Homo sapiens: one gene and its partners. Changing the gene in region 5 together with the main gene of any one other region gives a genetic interaction. Each region holds a gene or a part of one and is shown on either strand. Other genes may lie near its edges. The genes, in order: MZT1, CCNK, CDK12, MCM3AP, TBCB and YTHDC1.

What was found.
Region 1: changes in TBCB (region 5) and MZT1 together harm fitness less than expected from each alone (positive genetic interaction), as found in Homo sapiens cells (one large-scale study listed by BioGRID).
Region 2: changes in TBCB (region 5) and CCNK together harm fitness less than expected from each alone (positive genetic interaction), as found in Homo sapiens cells (one large-scale study listed by BioGRID).
Region 3: changes in TBCB (region 5) and CDK12 together harm fitness less than expected from each alone (positive genetic interaction), as found in Homo sapiens cells (one large-scale study listed by BioGRID).
Region 4: changes in TBCB (region 5) and MCM3AP together harm fitness less than expected from each alone (positive genetic interaction), as found in Homo sapiens cells (one large-scale study listed by BioGRID).
Region 6: changes in TBCB (region 5) and YTHDC1 together harm fitness less than expected from each alone (positive genetic interaction), as found in Homo sapiens cells (one large-scale study listed by BioGRID).

The regions. Positions count from the first base shown.
Region 1 is NC_000013.11:72,721,130-72,724,629, forward strand, and holds part of MZT1 (mitotic-spindle organizing protein 1), read right to left. Parts: intron 1-3,500. UniProt on the Homo sapiens protein: Required for the recruitment and the assembly of the gamma-tubulin ring complex (gTuRC) at the centrosome.
Region 2 is NC_000014.9:99,487,909-99,491,408, reverse strand, and holds part of CCNK (cyclin-K), read right to left. Parts: intron 1-3,500. UniProt on the Homo sapiens protein: Regulatory subunit of cyclin-dependent kinases that mediates activation of target kinases.
Region 3 is NC_000017.11:39,520,486-39,523,985, reverse strand, and holds part of CDK12 (cyclin-dependent kinase 12), read right to left. Parts: intron 1-3,500. UniProt on the Homo sapiens protein: Cyclin-dependent kinase that phosphorylates the C-terminal domain (CTD) of the large subunit of RNA polymerase II (POLR2A), thereby acting as a key regulator of transcription elongation.
Region 4 is NC_000021.9:46,272,112-46,275,611, forward strand, and holds part of MCM3AP (germinal-center associated nuclear protein), read right to left. Parts: intron 3,215-3,500; coding exon 3,075-3,214; intron 1,475-3,074; coding exon 1,277-1,474; intron 719-1,276; coding exon 450-718; intron 1-449.
Region 5 is NC_000019.10:36,121,968-36,125,467, reverse strand, and holds part of TBCB (tubulin-folding cofactor B), read right to left. Parts: exon of another isoform or gene 3,295-3,500; intron 18-3,294; coding exon 1-17.
Region 6 is NC_000004.12:68,336,591-68,340,090, forward strand, and holds part of YTHDC1 (YTH domain-containing protein 1), read right to left. Parts: intron 1,795-3,500; coding exon 1,693-1,794; intron 1,311-1,692; coding exon 982-1,310; intron 861-981; coding exon 437-860; intron 1-436. UniProt on the Homo sapiens protein: Regulator of alternative splicing that specifically recognizes and binds N6-methyladenosine (m6A)-containing RNAs.

The DNA of each region.
Region 1 (3,500 bases), on a different chromosome or scaffold from region 5:
AGAATTTTACTTAGGTACCGGATAGTTTTGTATTTCTAATTCTTGAGCTTTATAATGAGATACCGTTATCTGGAAATGGTTTGATCCTTTCGGATATTACTTCTTAGATCTGTTAGGCAGGACCAGAGCCCTGTTTAGGATAGGGCTAATTATTCCCCTTATGATTGAGGTAAGAATTCTGAGTACTGTATCCAATGTCTTATGAATTACAAAGATTTCCATTCTGGCTGGTAGTTACAGGCACTATCCTCAGCCCTGTGTAAGCACGGTGCACGGTTCACTCTAATCCTTCTAGATGGTTCCCTCCCAGCTTTCTGAGTACTTTCCTCACACATCTGCTAATCAATGCTCTGAATACTTAAGGGGGACACTTCTACAGATCTCCAGCATTCTTTCTGTGCAGTTCTCCCCTCTCAGGTACTGTTATTCAAACTCTACCTGCCTTGGTCTCCCAGGTCTTCTAAACTCCTCCTACTCACTTCAGTGTGTCCACTGGGTTCTCCCTGCTATACTGAGGCCTGGAACTCTCTGAAGGCAGTGAGCTGGGGCAACCCAAGAAATCACTTTGCTTGTTTCCTGTCTCTAAGGGATCACTGTACTCTGATGCCTGATGTCCAGTGTCTTGAAAACCATTGTTCTGTATGCTTTACCTGAGTTTTCTTGGTTGTTTCAAGTAGAAGCATAAATCTAATCTCTGTTACTCCATCTTGGCTGGAAGATGACAGCTCTTCCCATTTTCATTTCTTCAGTTTTGATATTCCAATTTACTGATACTTTGCTCTTCAGCTGTATCCAGCCTGTTATTCATATTATCTGCTGAATTTATTTCAAATTTATTTCAGTAGCTTTCAAGATTTCTAATTTCTAATTTCTCACCATAAACACTTGTTTTATAACTAAATGCTTATTTATAGTGACAAATTTCACAGCTGTTGTTCCTGCCTTCGTCTATTTAAGGCTATATTCTTAAACTGTATTTGAGATTGCTCTATTATCTCTATTTCTTGGAGTATAAGCAAGCAGCAAAAGACAGTGGTTAGGAGTGTGATCTCTAGAGCCAGACTACCTGTGTTCAAATTCTAGCTGTAGTATTTAGTAGGCAAGTTACTCTCTCTGTGCCTTATTTCACCATTCTCGAAAGTGAGGATAATAAGAGTACCTGTTTTAAAGGATTAGTGTGAGAATTAAAGGATACACTTAGAATGGTATCCATTTGTTTTGCTGACACTGCCTTGCAGTCCTTTGGAATGGTGCTTGGCATACGGTAGGGCTCAATAAAAAAGAGTTCCCTGTTACTACCACTTTCCCTCTTTTTCCTTTTCCATGTTAGTTGCTCATGTTTTTCATCTACCTTAGGTGCTTTGTCATTCTTGGCTGAAAACTCATCTTCCATAGATTTATTTTAGGTGTCCTGGACTGGTGGCCCATTCTAAGATAGGAAGCCGTACCCTAGCTTTAGGCCTCTAGATCAGGCCTTGTAGTATTTTTGGTCCAGATCCAAAAAACACATGGATGGTGCTTCTCAATCTCTGGCTGTGACAAATGGCACATTTCTGACTCCCAACTTCAGTGAGGCAGGGTAGCATGCTTTGTCAGATTCTATTCCCGACAATCCCCTGCTGTGGTTCCCATCTGCTCCTTTCTTTTGGGGGGAAACCTCTCTCTTCCTAATCAATGGAGACTTCCCTTCTTGCTTTTGAACAGGTCTATCCTGATAATTATATTTTCTTACTATTTCCTATTTTTTTATATGCTTAGAGTTTCAGCAAGTGCTCAATCTACCATATTGAATCTTCACTTTATTTTTGACTGTCTTCACAAATGGATTCTACTTAGCCCTTGTACATTCTAAGTGGTTACCATCAGTATACTGGAACACTACATATTAAACTTTTTAATCACCAGTCACCTTGATGAATTCTATGATGCTTCTAACAGTTTTTCAGTTGATTCTCTCCCTTCTCTCTCCAGTTTCCAGTTTGTTCTCTTCATGGTAGACCCCCCCACGTATAAAGGCTATGCTTATTCCTGACTTCATGCCTTTGTTCTTGCTTTTCTCCTCTGCCTTTTATCCTCCCTTCATATAACTCAATGCTGTTTTCTTAGTCCATCTCATTTGTGGTTTCTTCTTTAAGCCTTCTTTTCAAATGGACACCTATTTTTACTTCCTATTTTCACAAATCGCCTGTAATCAAAAACTATTTCTTTAGTGCCTACCATATGATCAGTACAGGTTGAACACTCCTAATTCCAAAATCTGAAATGTGAAATGCCGCAAAATCCAAAACTTATTAAGTACTGACATAACACCGTAGTGGAAAATTCCACACCTCATATAATGGATCAAAGTCAAAATGCAGGTGCACAATACACAGTTCATTCAGCATCCCTGAGGGAAAAAACCAAAATTACCTTCAGGCTATGTGTATAAGGTATATATAAAACATACAAGAATTCTGTGTTTGGACTTGGGTCCCATCCCCAAGATATCTCATTATGTATGTGAAAATATTACAAAAAAAAAAATCTGAAATCCAAAACATGGTCCCAAGGTTTTTGGATGAGAGATAATCAACCTCTAACTATATGTATTTTGTGCCTATTATGCTACTGCTGCAAATACAGTTATGAACAAGGTATATATGGTCCCACTCCTCACAGATATTAGTCCAGGAGGAGAGATAGATATTAAAGTAATAACTGATTCCAGATATAAGTAAAATAAATAAAGAGTGGAATACTTCTGAAACAAATTACAAGGGCATCTTACCAAGTTTGGAAGGACACAGTGTTTAGCAAAGACTTGTCTGAAGAAGTGACAATTACACTTAGACATCAAAAGTGAGTAGAAATCAACCAGACTAATACAGAGGCAGGAGGAAGGGTGATGGTTGAGAGCAAAGAAAACAGCTTGTGTGATGGTCCCTACACTAGAGGGAACTTGGTAAATTCAGACCTGAACTGCTATTGTGAAGGCAATGTAATTAACGGGGTGAATGGGTATAAAATATGAGGTAAGTCCTAGTGAAGATCTTAGAACTGTGGAAAGCTACTGGATGATATAAAATAGGAACATAAAAAAATCAAACTTGCATTTTAAGGACTTTTTGGCTGAGTATCAAATGAATCTTTAAAAAGTCCAGTTATATCACAATTTTGATAAAAGACTGGTGGGTAGGATGAACAGGAGATATTTAGCCAACCTGAAATGAGTCAAGAATTGAAAGGGCTTAGTGAAGAACAGGAGGCAGAGGAGGTGAGAAAGCAAGACTGACTTCTAGATTTCTTTCTCAAATGTGCAACTGGATTGATGGTGGTAGCATGGACTGTTTCGCTGGTACTGCCTTGCAGTGCTAGTCAAATGGAATCTATATACCATAGATTCTCTTAACTCCTTTCTCTATAACGTGTTTTTTTTTTTTTTTTTGAGATGGAGTCTAGCTCTGTCACCCAGTCTGCAGTGCAGTGGCGCAATCTCAGCTCACGACAACCTTCGCCTC
Region 2 (3,500 bases), on a different chromosome or scaffold from region 5:
TTGACAATTTGCTCTGTTGGCAAAGCTATAGAGAAGCAGGTGATCTTATAAGCTTCTGGTGGGAGTACAAAATGGTCCAACTGTCACAGAGAAGTTGACGATATCCAACAAAATTACACATGCATTTGCTCTTTGACCCAGGATTCCCACTGCTGGGAATCGACTCTGAAAATATTGTCCTAACTATGAAATGTCACAACTATGAAACAACATGTGCACAAGATTATTCACTGTAGTGTTATTTATAATGGCAAAACTATGAACAACCCAAACGCCCATCATCAGGGGACTGGCTGAGTAAAATATGACACATGCACACAATAGCATACCCCACAGCTATTAAAAAGAATGAGAAACATCGTTAAGTACTGGATGGAGAAATTTCCAGATCAGCAAGGTATAGGATAGTGTACACAGTATGTTAGCATCTATGTAAGAAAGGAGGGGAAAAAACAGACATCTCTTTTTTTTTTTTTTTTTGAGACGGAGTCTTGCTCTGTTGCCCAGGCTGGAGTGCCAGTGGCATGATCTCGGCTCACTGCAAGCTCCACCTCCTGGGTTTACGCCATTCTCCTGCCTCAGCCTCCCGAGTAGCTGGGACTACAGGCGCCCGCCACCACGCCTGGCTAATTTTTTTGTATTTTTAGTAGAGATGGGGTTTCGCCGTGTTAGCCGGGATGGTCTGGAGCTCCTGACCTCGTGATCCGCCTGCCTCGGCCTCCCAAAGTGCTGGAATTACAGGTGTGAGCCACCGCGCCCAGCCAGACATCTCTATTTTTTTAAAGTAATTCAAAAAATATTTACCAATAAGGAATGGGGAAAAACAGGATGGAAAAGACAGGAATGGAAACAAGACTTCTCTATGTATATATCTTTTTATACAGCTTTGCCTTTTTATGAAAGCTTTTATTTTAAACTAATTGTACGTTTACAGAAGAGCTGTAAAGATAGATGAGTTTTGTCTATACCCTTCACTTAGCTTCCCCAATGTAAACATCTTCCATAACCATGGTTCATTTATCCAAAAAAAGAAATTAACTTTGGTATAACCACTATTAACTACACATCATATTTGGGTGCAGGTGATATCAGAACAACTTACTGCTGTTAACCATGAGCTCTTGGTTAAGATGGAGTCTACCAGGTTTCTCACTGTAAATTATTATTTTTCCCTTCCTATCTTCTATTCCTTAGATGCAAGTCACGAGGTCCAGCCCACACTCAAGGGTAAAGGAATTAAGCTCTACTTTCTGGAGGCAGAGATATCAAAGAAATTGTGGACATATGTTAAAACCACCCACTAGTAAGTAAATATTTTGGGGGAAATATTTTACAATGCAAAATACTATACAAATGTCTATTTCTCCTTCAAGTTTCATCTACTAATTTTAGCATTCACCTGAGACGATTACAACTGTGGTGTTCTAATGGTGACTTTCTATTTCCTTCACTGCTTCAACATTTATTATTTGGAATCATTTTGTTAATATTTGTTTCTTCTCTCCCATTTGTTTATTTACTTTAGTACAGACATGAGTATTTTATTCTTTGGGTTATAATCCAATACTATCATTATTTATTTTGTTGCTCAAATTATTCCAATGTGGCCATTAGGTGCTCTTTCAGCTTGACTCCCTGCAGAGTACTTTTATAACTTTGATGTTTGAATCATGTAAATATTTAACATACTCATACACTTAACTAAAAATAAAAAAGCAAATCCTAAAACTCAAACCAAATGGGCAACAAAATCACACAGAAACTTACTTCCAAGTAATTTCTGATATTGTTACATGCTTAGTGAGATATATTCTAAGGACAAAAATAACTGAAAAGAATTATTTATTTGTTTATTTATTTACTTACTTACTTATTTTAGAGTCAGAGTCTTGTTCTGTCACCCAGGCTATAAGTGCAGTGGCATGATCCTAGTTCACTGCAGCATCGAACTCCTGGCCTCAAGCGATCCTCCCGCCTAGCCTCCCAAAGTGCTAGGATTATGGGTATGAGCCACAGTGGCTGGCCCCAACGAAATTTTAAAACTTCATTAGTGTACTGTTAGTAGTGTCATTAATGTTGTAATTTTCAAACACATTTTTTTTTGCATGTTGTGGAATAAAGCAAATATGTAAATGCTAATGTTGTTAGGAACCAAGATTTTCAGTGCAAAGAAAACAAATGCACACATGCAGAAAACCAAATGTTAAGAAACAAATCTGTAATGTTAAACTTTAACTGAAGATATCAAAATAAATCATGGTTAAAAAAAAATATATATATATGTATCCCATTTCTGTCCTTTTCAAGTACCAAGAAGGAATGACACTCCTAATTCTGAAATCTTAACTTTTTCAATACCAATACCCTCTAAAAGGAAGCAGGTTTCTTTCCAGTCTGGGGTTGGAGCCTGCCTGGGATGTACTCAGACTAATCAAAGCTTATCAAAAGACATAGGACTGCTGAAGGAATGATTTGCTAGGGAAAAAAAAAAAAAAGACATAGGAGCCACCATGATGGGTGCCCACTGGACTAATCCAAGGTAATTTGAATAGCAAAAAGAAAAATAACTGTGGTTGATCATAAAATAGTGAACATACAATCCAAGTGTCCATAATATTAATACATATAGAGAATAATACTTTGCTAGCACTGATAACTACTGATAATAAAATGCTACTGATAATAAATGCGACTTTGCTAGCATGGATATTAACTACTGTAAAAAAAATACAGTTGATCCTTAACAAAATGATCACACTTGACATCACTAATAGGGTGAAAACCTGACATTACATGGCTTCTGATGTGATGCAATGTGAAATAAATATCACCTACCTATGTAGTATTCTTGTCCCCCAAAAGCTTAACCTAAATTTAAGCAAACTTTTGACCGAACTTCCAGTTTACAATAAATACTGGTGGTACAAGAGTAAGTGAAAAAAGCACAACATGGAAACTATCAGTCACATCCAGAAGGTGAGACACTCTACTCAACAACTGACCCGGTCTCTTCAAAACAGTGTTATGAAAAAACATTTTGAGAGACTGTCTTAGATTTAAAAAGGCTAAAGAGGGCTACAACAAAATGCAATGTGTGAACCTTGATTAGATCCTGCTTTTTTTTTTTTTTTAAAAAAAAGAAATTTCAAACAATTTGGAAAAATTTAAGTATAAATTGTATATTAGAGGGTATTAGGGAGGGAATTACTGTCAGTTAATTTTCTTTGGGGGTAATAATGATATTGTGATTACACAGGAGAATGACTTTATTCTTAGCAGATGAAGGCTGAAGTATTTTGGGTAAAGTGTCATGATGTCTGCAACCTACTTTCAAATGGTTCAGCTAAAACACAACCACACAGTAAACATGGCAAAAAACGAACATGTGTCCACAGGTAAATAAGTTGTCATTGCACTATTCTTTCATACAATAAAAAGTTGGGGAAAAAGTCAGATGAGACTGAATAGGAGACCAGGAGGACTCCTTATCTTCATCAATC
Region 3 (3,500 bases), on a different chromosome or scaffold from region 5:
CAATGTATCAACATTCTAGTGTAATAAATGAATTTGGCTGGGCGCGGCAGCTCATGCCTGTAATCCCAGCACTTTGGGAGGTAGAGGCAGGCGGATCATGAGGTCAGGAGTTCGAGACTAGCCTGGCAACATGGTGAAACCTGGTCTCTGCTAAAAATACAAAAATTAGCCAAGTGTGGTGGTGTGTGCCTGTAATCCCAGCTACTAAGGAGGCTGAAGCAGGAGGATTGCTTGAACCTGGGAGGTGGAGGCTGCAGTGAGCCGAGATCACACCACTGCACTCCAGCCTGAGCAACAGAACAAGAGTCTGTCTCAAAAAAATAAATGAATTTGGACATTTCTTTGGAGCAATCAGATTTAGAATTACTACCTACTCATGAACTAACATCCTATCCATTTTTAAGACATGTAGTCTTTCTTAAGAAAATGACCTCCAAAATTTGACATTAAAGCTATAATACTGTCACTGACAAATTCAAAGATAAAATACTTTTTTTTTCTTTTTCTTTTGAGACAGAGTCTTGCTCTGTTGCCCAGGCTAGAGTGCAGTGGTGCAATCTCAGTTCACTGCAACCTCCGCCTCCCAGGTTCAAGTGATTCTCCTGCCTTAGTCTCCCTGAGTAGCTGGGACTACAGGTACACGCCACTACGCCTGGCTAATTTTTGTATTTTTTAGTAGAGACGGGGTTTCACTATGTTGGCCAAACTGGTCTCGAACTCATGACCTCAGGTGATCTGCCTGCCTCAGCCTCCCAAAGTGCTGGGATTACAGGCATGAGCCACCGTGCCAGGCCAGATAAAAGACTTTTTATGTGCTATAATGTGGGATATGAATCTCTGAAGCTCCAATACAATACAGAGGCATTCATAAGATTTTAATTAAATAGAGACATATTAAAAGATCATATTTCTTTTATGTTACTTTAATTTTTTGAGATGGAGTATCACTCTATGGTCTAGGCAGGAATGCACTGGCACAATCTCGGCTCACTGCAACCTCCACCTCCCGAGTTCAGGCGATTCTCCTCCCTCAGCCTCCTGAGTAGCCAGGACTACAAGCATACACCACCACACCTGGTTAATTTTTTGTATTTTTAGGAGAGACGGGGTTTTACCATGTTGGCCAGGCTCTCTTGAACTCCTGACCTCAGGTGATCCATCCACCTCGGCCTCCCAAAGTGCTGGGATTACAGGTGTGAGCGACCGCGCTCGACCGAAAGATCTTATTTCTTACATCAAAATTCAGTAATCTGGCTGGGTGCGGTAGCTCACGCCTATAATCACAGCACTTTGGGAGGACGAGGCAGGCGAATCACCTGAGGTCAGGAATTGGAGACAAGTCTGGTCAACATGGTGAAACCTCATCTCTACTAAAAATACAAAAATTAGCCAGCTGTGGTGCCGGGCTCCTGTAATCCAGCTACTCAGGAGGCTGAGGCACGGGAATCGCTTGAAGCCGGGAGGTGGAGGTTGCAGTGAGTTGAGATTGTGCCACTGCACTCCAGCCTGGGTGACAGAGTGAGAGACCCTGTCTCAGAAAAAAACAAAAACAACAAAAAAAACTGGCAGTGATGCAAACCATTTAAAACTGGGACTGTTGGCCGGGTTCAGTGGCTCACGCCTGTAATCCCAGCACTTTCGGAGGCCGAGGCAGGCAGATTACCTGAGGTCGGGACTTCAAGACCAGTCTCACCAATATGGTGAAACTCTGTTTCTACTAAAAATACAAAATTAGCCAGGCATGGGGGCGCATACCTGTAATCCCAGCTACTCGGGAGGCTGAGGCAGGAAACGCTTGTGGTGAGTCGAGATCACACCACTGCACTCCAGCCTGGGCAACAAGAGTGAAACTCTGTCTCAAAAAAAATAATAACAAAAAAAACCCCAAAAAACTGGGACTATCTCTGCAAGTGTGAGATATACATGGTCACCAGAGACATGCATGATTACAGCTGGAGGAATGGTTAAGAGCAAAAACCAGAGGGAGGCCAAGCATGTGTCTCCTGCCTGTAATCCCATGACTTTGGAAGGCTGAGGCGGGAGAATCACTTGAGCCCAGGAGTTTGAGACAGTCTGGACAACATTGTGAGACTCCATTTCTACAATTGGAAAAAAAAAAAAAAAGGCTGGGAGTGGTGGCTCATGCCTGTAATCCCAACACTTTGGGAGGCTGAGGCAGGCAGATCACCTGAAGTCAGGAGTTTGAGACCACCTTGGCCAACATGGTGAAACCCTGTCTCTACTAAAAATACAAAAAAATTAGTCGGGCGTGGTGGCCTGCGCCTATAATCCCAGCTACTCAGTAGGCTGGGACAGGAGAACTGCTTGAATCCAGGAGATGGAGGTTGCAGTGAGCCGAGATCACGCCACTGCACTCCAGCCTGGGCGACAGAGCGAGACTCCGTCTCGGAAAAAACAAAAAAGGCTGGGAGCAGTAGCTCACATCTGTAATCCCGGCACCTTGGGAGGCCAAGGCGGGCGGATCACCTGAGGCCAGGAGTTCAAGATCAGCCCGGCCAACGTGATGAAACCCTGTCTCTACTAAAAATACAAAAATTAGCCGGGCATGGTGGCGTAATTCCAGCTACTTGGGAGGCTGAGGCAGGAGAATTGCTTGAAACTGGGAGGCGGAGATTGCAGTGAGCCAATATCACACCACTGCACTCCAGCCTGGATGCGAAGAGTGAAACTCCGTCTCAAAACACACAAACAAACAAACAGGCCAGGCACGGTGGCTCACACCTGTGATCCCAGCACTTTGAGAGGCCAAGATGGGCAGGAGTTCAAGACCAGCCTGGCCAACATGGTGAAACCCCATCTCTACTAAAAATACAAAAAAATGGCCAGGCACTGTGGCTCATGCCTGTAATCCCAGCACTTTGGGAGGCCGAGGTGGGCAGATCACCTGAGGTCGGGAGTTCGAGACCAACCTGACCAACATGGAGAAACTCTGTCTCTACTAAAAACACAAAATTAGCTGGGCATGGTGGCACGTGCCTGTAATTTCAGCTTGGGAAGGCTGAGGCAGGTGAATCGCTTGAACCTGGGAAGCAGAGGTTGCGGCGAGCTGAGATTGCGCCATTGTACTCCAGCCTGGGGAACAAGAGCGAAACTCCATCTCAAAAAACAAAACAAAATGAAACAAAAATACAAAAAAATTAGCCGGGTGTGGTGGCAGGCACCTGTAATCCTAGCTACTTGCAAGGCTAAGGCAGGAGAATCGCTAGAACCCGGGAGGTGGAGGAGGCAGAGCAAGATTCCATCTCAAAACAACAACAACAACAACAACAACAAAAACACGCTGGACGCAGTGGCTTACGCCTGTAATCCCAGCACTTTCGGAGGCCAGGGTGGGTCACCTGAGGTCAGGAGTTCGAGACCAGCTGGGCCAGCAAGGTGTAACCCCGTCTCTACTAAAAATACAAAAATTAGCTGGGTGTGGTGGTGTGTGTCTGTAGTCCCAGCTACTCGGGAGGCTGAGGCAGGAGAATCGCTTGAAC
Region 4 (3,500 bases), on a different chromosome or scaffold from region 5:
TTCATTCATTCTCACTACCCCATTCTTCGCATTTTTGTTTTACATAATTTTTTCCTCTCTTATTCTGAGATCTTTGACAAAACTATCTGGGAACAGGGAACTGCTAACAACCTTGCAGGGCACCTGGAACTCCCTCTCCTGGTTCACTCACCTGTCTCATGAGGAGGATTCCTTCCTCATTTTCTCACTGGTGAGGAGAAACTATTTTCAGAAATGAACATGTGGGGCCTACGTCAGATGTGCTGGTCCCAGGGCACACCCCCATCGCTCTTCCCCCAGCTCAGCTCAGCCGACTGCAAAGCCAGACCAAGGTCCTCTACTATCATCCCAACATCTGCTACCAGACAGAATGCTGCACTATTGGCTACTGCCACTCCTGAAAGCTCTTCTCCTGTTTAAAGCCTGCCTTTTCAGCCACCTTAGGACAACTTTTGGATGTGAAAATTCACCTTAGGATGTCTCCCTTGTTGAGACTGAGCAGAACATTGTAGCCCTGGAACTCCGCTTCGCTGGCACAGAAGACACCCTTGTTTCTCAGGTCCTGGTACATCTCCTTCAGGCTCTGCAGGCACTTGGTCATGTTCTCATTATTGATCTTGGCATCAAAGGAGGACATGGGCTCCTCACACATGAAGTGGGCACAGTGGATGTGAAACCGGGTGCACTTCTCAATCAGGGACACCGTCAGGGGGTCACAGAGGTGCTGCTGCGTGATATCCTGGCCACAGGCGAGGGGGAGGATCACACACACATTCCCATGCAAAGAGGCAACCGTGAGAAGGATCATGCTACGACCTCAATTTCTCACTTTTCAATTTGAAACAAAGCCCATGATGCACATTTTAATAGGACTTTGTAGTGACTTAAATAAAAGTCCTGGGGTTTGTTTTTTTTTTTGAGACAGAAGCCAGGCTGGAGTGCAGTGGTGTCATCTTGGCTCACCACAACCTCCGCCTCCCAGGTTCAAGCAATTCTGCTTCAGCCGCTCGAGTAGCTGGGACTACAGGCGTGTGCCACCACGCCAAGCTAATTTTTGTATTTTCAGTAGAGATGGGGTTTAACCATGTTGGCCAGGCTGGTCTCAAACTCCTGACCTCAGGTGATCCACCCACCTCGGCCTCCCAGAGTGCTGGGATTACAGGCCTGAGCCACTGCACCTGGCCCACAAAAGTACATTTTTGTTACAGATAAAATATATAACAGAGTAATAAAAATATCAGTTTGACTTTGGAATTTGCGTGGATTTTTTAGCATCCAGGTTGGAGGCAGCCAATACCTTCCGTATGCCACGCGTGCGGTTCCACACGAAGTCATACCAATCCCGCAGGCTGCCCTCCTTCTGGTCCATGATCTGGGTCACCAGGTAGTCCATGGTCCTGCTGAGCACTGGCAAGGGCCGCAGCTCGTGGGGCAGGGGCTCCTCCTGATCCGCCGAGGACCGACTGTACTCTTTCACAGCTGCTGCGTGGTCCACCTAGAGACATGAAGCCGAGACAGGATGCCCATGTGGCATACCTTGGGCCAGGCATAGTTATGCCTGAAAATGAGGGGGAAAATCACATACACACCCACACAAGATCAGTATTTGAGAATATATTTTTTCAACATAAAATTTCTGTTAAAAGGTGACAATCAAAATTCAAAGACAAATAGAGAAATTTGATTTTGGCAAATATGACAAGGAGTTAAGATATGAGTGCGTCATGACAAACAGGAGGAATGTTAAGTGAAGGCACATCTGCTAGCCTCCAAAGCAGAGAGACGGGACAGGGAAGGGCCTCAAGCACTTAAAAGGTCTCAGGCCCGCTCACACACCAGATTAAGTCTACACAGAGCAGAAGTGAAACAGAGACAGGCGGTGAGGACTGCTGAGGACACAGCATCAGGGGCTGGCTGCCCACCTGGGGCCTGGAATTGCATCTCCCACCTCAAAAGGAGGCTGAAGACGTGGCCAAGGGAAGAGGCAGAGATGTACACAGGACAAGGCCCTGGGCATGTGCCTCTCCTGGGGCAGGGGCCCTACAGTGACACGAGTTGCTGGGCTGGGGACCCCGCACCAGGCGAAGGGTGTATAAAGCCACCAGCCAGGAAGAGGAGAAGCCCATAAGCAAAATTCACAAAGTCCAAAAGGATCTATATTGGTGCAGCTTTCTGGGGCAACAATTTGGGAAGATACATGGATAATGTTCAGGAAAGGTCATACCCTCTGATGCAGTAATTTAATTCTTAGGATCTGAAGAAAATAATCTAAATACCAGAGAAGCATTACATACAAGATGCCAAACAATATTACTAATAGAACTAAAAATTTAGAAGCAGCCTATCTACTAATGGTAAAAATGCAGAGTTTTGACAGAGCTACTAATAAAATAATATGCTGTCATTTTTAAATGCTCATAGTTTACCCTAACAAAGGAAAATGTTCATGACATAATTTTAAGTGGAAAAGATACACATAAAATTGTATCTAGAGCATAATCTCGAATGTGTAAAACATAAGCATAGAAACAGACAGGAATAAGATCGTAAAAAGAAAAAAGTTAGCTGGATGTGGTGGCTCACGCCTGTAATCCCAGCACTTTGGGAGGCGGAGGTGGGCAGATGACTTGAGCTTAGGAGTTCGGGACCAGCCTGGGCAACACGGCAAGACCCCATCGCTGCAAAAAATAAAACAGTAACTAGGCGTGGTGGAGCATGCCTGTAATCCCAGCTACTCTGTAAGCTGAGTGAGAGGAGAGGATCACCTGAGCCTGGGAAGTTGAGGCTGTAGTGAGCCATGATTGGACCACTGCACTTCAGCCTAGGTGACAGAGTGAGACCCTGTCTCAAAAAAAAAAAAAAAAAAAAAGAATTTGAAAAACAACTTTATTTAAAATAACTTGCATCTATACCTTATCATGTATAGGTACCAATTACAGAGTGAACATCTCACAATGCAAAACAGCTTAATATGATTGTTAATAGCACAAATACCCAACACTGTCTAAAACAAACACCCAAATCAAGTATGTACAGAAATGACAAAAGCAGCCCCGTCCCCTGCCCACACTCCACGGGGAGATGCAGGGCTCTACCTGGTCAGTCCCTGGGACCACTTCGAACACGCTCAGCTGGCTACGGGTCTCCCGCATGTACCTCTCCTTCTCAGGACACATATCCAGGCAGGTGCCAACAAAAGTCCTCGCTTTGTCCAGATCGGTTCTCTTCACCCGAGCTAAATGACGTCAAGTAAAAGGTAAGAATGTACCACATGGTTAGCACGAACCTACAGAAGTGTATTCTCATAATGATAAAAAGAAATTAAAACTTAAAACACACACACACATTACAAAAGAAAAGAAAAACATTTGTAAAACTCAGAGCCTCAGACAAAGAGGACTTATGGTCTATTATGCCAGGCAGTGGGACATCAAAGCTCCCAAAGACCCGAGTCCACCTCTCTCTAACAGTCACAGACCCTCACTGCAGACTAAGAGAAAGACCCCCGAGTCACCTCTCCA
Region 5 (3,500 bases):
CTTGAAATCTGTGAGACCTGCCAACAGAAGAGAAATCCCTGTGAAGCTTCTGGACATAGAAGAAATCCCCATGAAATTTCAGGATCACCCTGGATCCATGCCTACCCATTGAGTAGAAGCCTGTCTTGGTGAAAACCATTTCTTGCTACCTCTATTGCTACCACTAGGACCACCTCCAGCTCCTGCCGGGACTAATATGGTAGCCACTTCACTGGTGTCCCTGCTTCCACCCCTGTCCCCCATTCACTGGGTGAAGACACCAGCCAGTGAGGGCTTTGTAAAAACCTAAGGGGGATGGCACTACTGCCTTGCCAGAGAGAGAGGCTTCAGAATAAATCCAACCTGCTGACAGCTTGATCTTGAACTTCTAGCCTCCATTACTGTGAGAAATAACTTTAAGTTGCTCAGTGAGTGGTACTTTGTTAGCAAACTAATACACAACTCAGCGACAAAAGACAGCATCCCAATGAAAAACTGAGCAGAAGAATATACAAGGAACTCAAAGAACACCCACTTTGCAAAAAAAAAATCCCATTACAAAGTGGGCAACAGGAAGTTGAGGCTGCAGTGAGCCACGATCATGGCCAAAGGACATGAACACACACTTCTCAAAAGATGACATACTGGCCGGGTGCGGTGGCTCACGCCTGTAATCCCAGCACTTTAGTAGGCTGAGGAGGGTGGATCACGAGGTCAGGAGATCGAGACCATCCTGGCTAACACGGTGAAGCCCCGTCTCTACTAAAAATACAAAAAATTAGCCGGGTGTGGTGGCGGGCGCCTGTAGTTCCAGCTACTCGGGAGGCTGAGGCAGGAGAACCGTTTGAACCCGGGAGGCGGAGGTTGGAACGAGCGAGCTGAGATCATGCCACTGTATTCCAGCCTGGGCACAAAGCGAGATTACGTCTCAAAAGAAAAAAAACAAAACCAAACCCCGACATACCGATGGGCGCAGTGGCTCATGTTTGTAATCCTAGCACTTTGGGAGATCCACCAGCTCAGGTGGATCACTTGAGGCCAGGAGTTTGAGACCAGCCTGGCCAACATGGCAAAACCCTGTCTCTACTAAAAATACAGAAATTAGCCAGGTGTTGTAGCGCTCACCTATAATCCCAGCTACTCGGGAGGCTGAGGCATGAGAATTGCTTGAACCCGGGAGGCAGAGGATGCAGTGAGCTGAGAGCACCACTGCACTCCAGCCTGGGTGACGGAGTGAGACTGTGTGTCAAAAAACAAAAGGCAAAGGATCTGAATAGACATTTCTCCAAAGAAGATACACAAATGGCCATGCAAAGATGCTCAACATCATTAGCTGCCAAAGAAGTGCAAATCAAAACCATGATGATGTTCCACTTCACACCCAGTGGATGACTGTAAGCAAAAGACAGACTAAAGTGCTGGTGAGGATGAGGACAAAATGGGACCCTTCTGCACTGCTGGCGGGAATGAAAACTGCTGCAGCGGCTGTGGGAAGCAGTGTGGCAGGTCCTCAAAAAAGTCAAGCACAGTGTTACCATGTGGCCCAGGGATTCCACTCCTAGGCACAGAGAAATGAAAACAAATGTCCACATAAAAATGTATTTTTTATTTTTTGAGATGGAGTCTTGCATGGTTGCCCAGGCTGGAGTGCAGTGGTGTGATCTTGGCTCACTGCAACCTCCGCCTCCCAGGCTCAAGCGATTCTCCTGCCTCAGCCTTCCGGGTAGCTGCGATCACAGGCACCCGCCACCACGCCCAGTTAATTTTTGAATTTTTAGTAGAGATGGGGTTTCACCATGTTGGCCAGGCTGGTCTCAAAATTCCTGATCTCAGGTGATCTGCCCACCTTGGCCTCCCAAAGTGCTGGAATTACAGGCATGAGCCACCATGCCCAGCCACACAGAAATTTATAAAAGAATGTTCAGGCCTAGCATGGTGGCTCACACCTGTAATCCCAGCACTTTGGGAGGCTGAAGCAGGACGATCACTTGAGCGGGAAGAGTTTGAGACCAGCCTGGGCCACATGGCGAAATCCCATCCTACAAAAAAAACCACAAAACTTTAGCCGGGGGTGGTGATGAGTACCTGTATTCCCAGCTACTCAGGAGGCCGAGGTGGGAGGATGGCTTGAGCCCAAGAGGTTAAGGCTGAAATGGCCGAGATTGTGCCACTGCATTCCAGCCTGGGCAATAGCCAGATGCTGTCTCAAATTAGAAAAAAAAAAAAAAAAAAAAGAAGAAGGTTCATAGCAGCATTATTCATAATAGCCAAAAAGTGGAAATGACCCTAATGTCCACTAACTGGTGACTGGATACACTGTGGTCTAGGCGCTCAATGCAGGACTATTTGGCAACAGTGTGGCACTGACACAGGCATGCCACGGATGAAACTTGAAAGCATTCTGCTCAGTGGAAGGCGCCAGTTACAAAAGGCCACAGACTGCATGATCCTATTCCTATGAAACATCCAGAATCGGCAAATTAGAGACAGACGTAAATTAGTGGCTGAAGACGACTGGGGGATGGGTACACACAGGCATAAAGACGGAAATACCAGACAGTGGGGATGCCAGAAACAGGAGGGTGGTGAGGGTTGAAAAATTATCTGTTGGGTACGATGTTCACAATTTGGGTCATGGGTACACTAGAAGCCCGGTCCCCACCCACTAGCAGGCAACACACCCATGTAACAATACATATATGTACCCCGTGTATCTTTTTTTTTTTTTTTTTTTGGAGACAGGGTCTCCCTCTGTCACCCAGGCTGCAGTGCAGTGGTGCGATCATAGCTCACTGCAGCCTCAACTCCCGGGCTCAAGCCATCCTCCCACCTCAGCCTCCCAAGTAGCTGGGGCACCTATAGGTGCTCACCACCACAACTGACAAAAGTTTTGTGGGATTTTTTTTTTTTTTTTTTTGTAGAGACAGGGTCTCATTATGTTGCCCAGGCTGGTCTCAAATTCCTGGGTTCAAGTGATCCTCCTGTCTCAGCCTCCCAAAGTGCTGGGATTACAGGTGTGAGCCACTGCACCCAGCCTTTTTTTTGAGACTGGGTCTTTCTCTGCTGCCCAGGCTAGGGTGCAATGACACAATCATAGCTCACTGTAACCTCCAACTCCGGGGCTCAAGCAAGCCTCCCACCTTGTTCTCCCAAAGTGCTGAGTTTACAGGCGTGAGCCATCATGCCTAGCCTGTTCTTTTTAAAAAAATCCACACTGCTCTCCACTGTGACGCCGCCCTGCCCATGCCCCTGACTACACTTCTCCCCTCTCCTCCCGCTCCCCTTCCCCAGGTGGACCTCCTGCGCTCTGCTCACCTGCACCCGCTACTCCTTCTGGCGGGAACTCTTCCTCCCTTTTCACCTGGCTGCTGCCTCCTTTCCTTCAGATGCTCCCAGCCTCCAGGTGCTTCCTCTGGGCTCACACAGCCCCCTGTGTTCCCTCACTCCTGCCTTGGTCACGCCGCCCGTTTCCCCACCGCGACTGACACTGCCCCACGCTTCGAAGCGCACAGGCCGCGTGC
Region 6 (3,500 bases), on a different chromosome or scaffold from region 5:
GAAATAATCTGTTTTGATTCTGAAGCCATATGATGGAAATCTAGGGGTATTTTACCAAGGAAATACTGTAATACCCAGTGGACAGGTTTCCTATGAATATACTTCAAGTACATCAGTGTTTAAATAAACTGCTGACTGGTATGAAAATCTAAGAATTTACAGAAATCTGAAATACATTTCCTTATACAGAATCAAATGGACTTGTGTTCATTTACAACACAACCATTCTGTAGCTAGGAAATGCCTTTCCTAAAATATGTAAATCTTATCCAAGATTATTCAAATGTATTTATAACATTCAAAAGCATATAAAGGATCACAAGACAATCCTATTAATATCCCCCATCTCCTCAACAATTTTATAATTTAAACATTTTCAAGACTGAAACCTATCAAGCTTTTTTTAAGACAAACTTTTACATATAAAAAGTAGTACCTGATCCATCTGTGCCTGAACCAGATCTGACAGACCCATCTGTGAAGGAAACAGATTCAGAACCAGAGTCACTGGCCTCACTTCGAGTGTCATAATCATTTCCCTCCTCTTTCTGGTCTCTCTCATCCTGTTCATATTCTTCTTCTTCCTCCTCCTCCTCCTCCTCTTCCTCCTCCTCCTCTTCCTCCTCCTCCTCTCCATCTTCATCCACCTCTTCATCTTCTTCTGCATCTTCTTCTACTTCTTCATCTTCCTCCACATCTTCTTCCACTCCTTCCTCCTCATTCTCAGTGTTGTTCCCTTGCTCATCAGAAGAACCACTGCTGCCAGTCTCATGGTCAGAGCCATATTCTTCAGAGTTCACTTCTTCCTTAGAAGACTGGCTGGATCTGCTTGCACGTCTATCCACTTCAAGCCCAATTCTCTGATGTTTAAAGAAAAAGGGAATCAGCAGTCATATAAAAGACAAGGTCAGGGTGAATAAACAGTTCTAAAGCCTCAAAAAGAATGGCTTTCTGTTTTATATCTGCAATAATATTTACTACCTCAGAACCATCTGGCGTAGGAGATTTGGCCCTCCTTTCAGGATCCCTTTTCCGGACACAGGTTTTTTCAGGTTGATTCTTATAAGGTTCTCTGGAGGCACTACTTGATAGACGAATTTTCCGATCAGCATCTAGACGCTTGTTTCTTTCAGATCTTTGATATTCCTCATTTTTATACTCTGTGGCTGACTTTCCTTTTGTACTAACTATTCTTTTGTTATTGCTAACAGATGAGCTCAGTGGCTTAGAAACCAGTTGTCTAGAATGGACAGAAGGCTTTTGTCGTTTGGTATCAGTAGATTCCATTCGATCACTTTTTCTTTTTGATCCTTTAAAATACAATGTAAAAAAAAAAAAAAGAAGTATTTGTAGTATTCCATTTATTTCACCAAAGACTGACAATAATATATACATCAGGAAGGGGGGATAGGCCTCATTTCTTTAAAAGTCTTCTGAGAGATTTCTTCTCCAGAGTTAATCTAAAAGAAAACATAGCTTTCAACTATGGGAATAAAACCATATATTTGAGAAGTTTCATATATTAGAAAAAAACAGATTATCCCTATTCATATGGATACCAGTTTATTATGTACATTTAGTGTTAACTGCCTCAAGGAACAAGCACAAAAAAGCACAGTCATTTTTTTTAAGAAATTGAATCTCCTCTATTTATACTGTTATTTCAACAAAAATAATAGAACTCTTACATACCCTTTTTCTCATTTTTATCTTGTTCACTCTCTGGATTATACAGTTCATCATCTTGTTCTGGTACTTCAGTTAAAATATCATCCAGAACATTAAGTTCTCCATCTGCAAATAAAATTAAAAATTAATAGGGAAAAATCACTATCATTGAACATGTATTTTTGAGTACTTACTAAGTGTGAGGCCACAAGCGCCTAGGAGCTTTTACTTTTATATAAAAAGCTTTACTTTTATTTCAGAATCAAGACACAAGATTAATTTCTATAAAACTAATACAGGGTAAAGAATTGGCCAGTCGTGGTGGCTCATGCCTGCAATCCCAGCACTTTGGGAGGCTGAGGCAGGCCAATCACGTGACGCCAGGAGTTTGAGACCAGCCTGGCCAACATGGCAAAACCCTGCTCTGCTAAAAATACAAAAATTAGCAGGGCATGGTGGCACATGCCTTTAACCCCAGCTACTCAGAAGGCTCAGGGACAAGAATCACTTGAACCTGGGAAGCAGAGGTTGCAGTAAGCCAAGATTGTGCCACTGCATTCCAGCCTGGGCGATAAGAGTGAGTTTCTCAAAATACACACACACACACAAACAGAAGTCTGGGCTATCTGGTCTACAAAGCCAGGAGTATACATCTCAGAAGGCATGAAAAGATATACTGAGGCATAAAAAGAAAATGCAAGAATGTCTCTATTTTTACCTCATTCTTTAATTTCTAATATTTCTGAGGGCTTTAAAATGTGTACAATAAATTAGTATACAAATACGTATGTACAACTTATAAATACACATTTACCAAAAATGTGCACTCTCCACAATTACAAAGGGAAAACGACTTTACAGTGGAGAAATGTTTCACAGGCCAAATTAACCAGATAATCAAAGTTAACATCACCAGTAATGAGACAAATCAACATCATGGACCTCCTGTAACAATGCTCTGAGAATAGAACAATGCTTTTGTAATGTTCTATGCAAAATGGAAAAGCTGAACCTACATGAGGAAAAAAATCAGACAAACCCAAATTAAAGGGCATCCAAATATGTCACTGTCATGAAACAAAGAGTAAGAACTATTTCATATCAAAGCAGACCTAGAGAGGCATGATAACTGAACACAGCCCACAATATTGGACATAATTGGAAAAACTGGTGAAATCTGAATAAAGTTTGTAAATCAGAGTAAGTAGCAATGTTATTTTTCTAATTTTGACTGTACTATGGTTAAGTCAAAGTCCTTATAACACATATTTAAGTATTTAGGGACAAAGATATATTATGTCTACAACTTACAAATGGTTCAGGAAAAAAGTGTGCACACATGCACGTACACACACAGACACACAGAATGAGACAAATGTGACAAAATGCTAACATCTGCAGAATGTGTTTGGAGAGTAAAAGAAAATTCTTCACACTGCACTTGTAGCTATTATGCTTATCTGAAATTATGTCAAACTGCAAGTTAAATGAAAAAATTATCAATGTGCTATATAATAAAAAAAACATTTAGAGCCTGCTGGTGTGGACTGTAAAAGCACAAAACTTGTTCAGAGAAGGGAACTATGACTTTATTCAATGATCATGAAAGCATAAAACTCAGTTTTGTCCCCACTTCTACCTTGTCCAACAAGATAAACCTTAGAAATACACACAAATACCATTTTAAATTTTAAAATGTACTAATGCTAATAGTAAATGTTTAAACATTAACTATTCCAATATCAAAAACATCTTTCCAAATTTAAGGTGTGCCAAAGAGGAAGTATAAAGCCATGAAAACTGATGAGACAGAACAATTACATTTGTGGCTT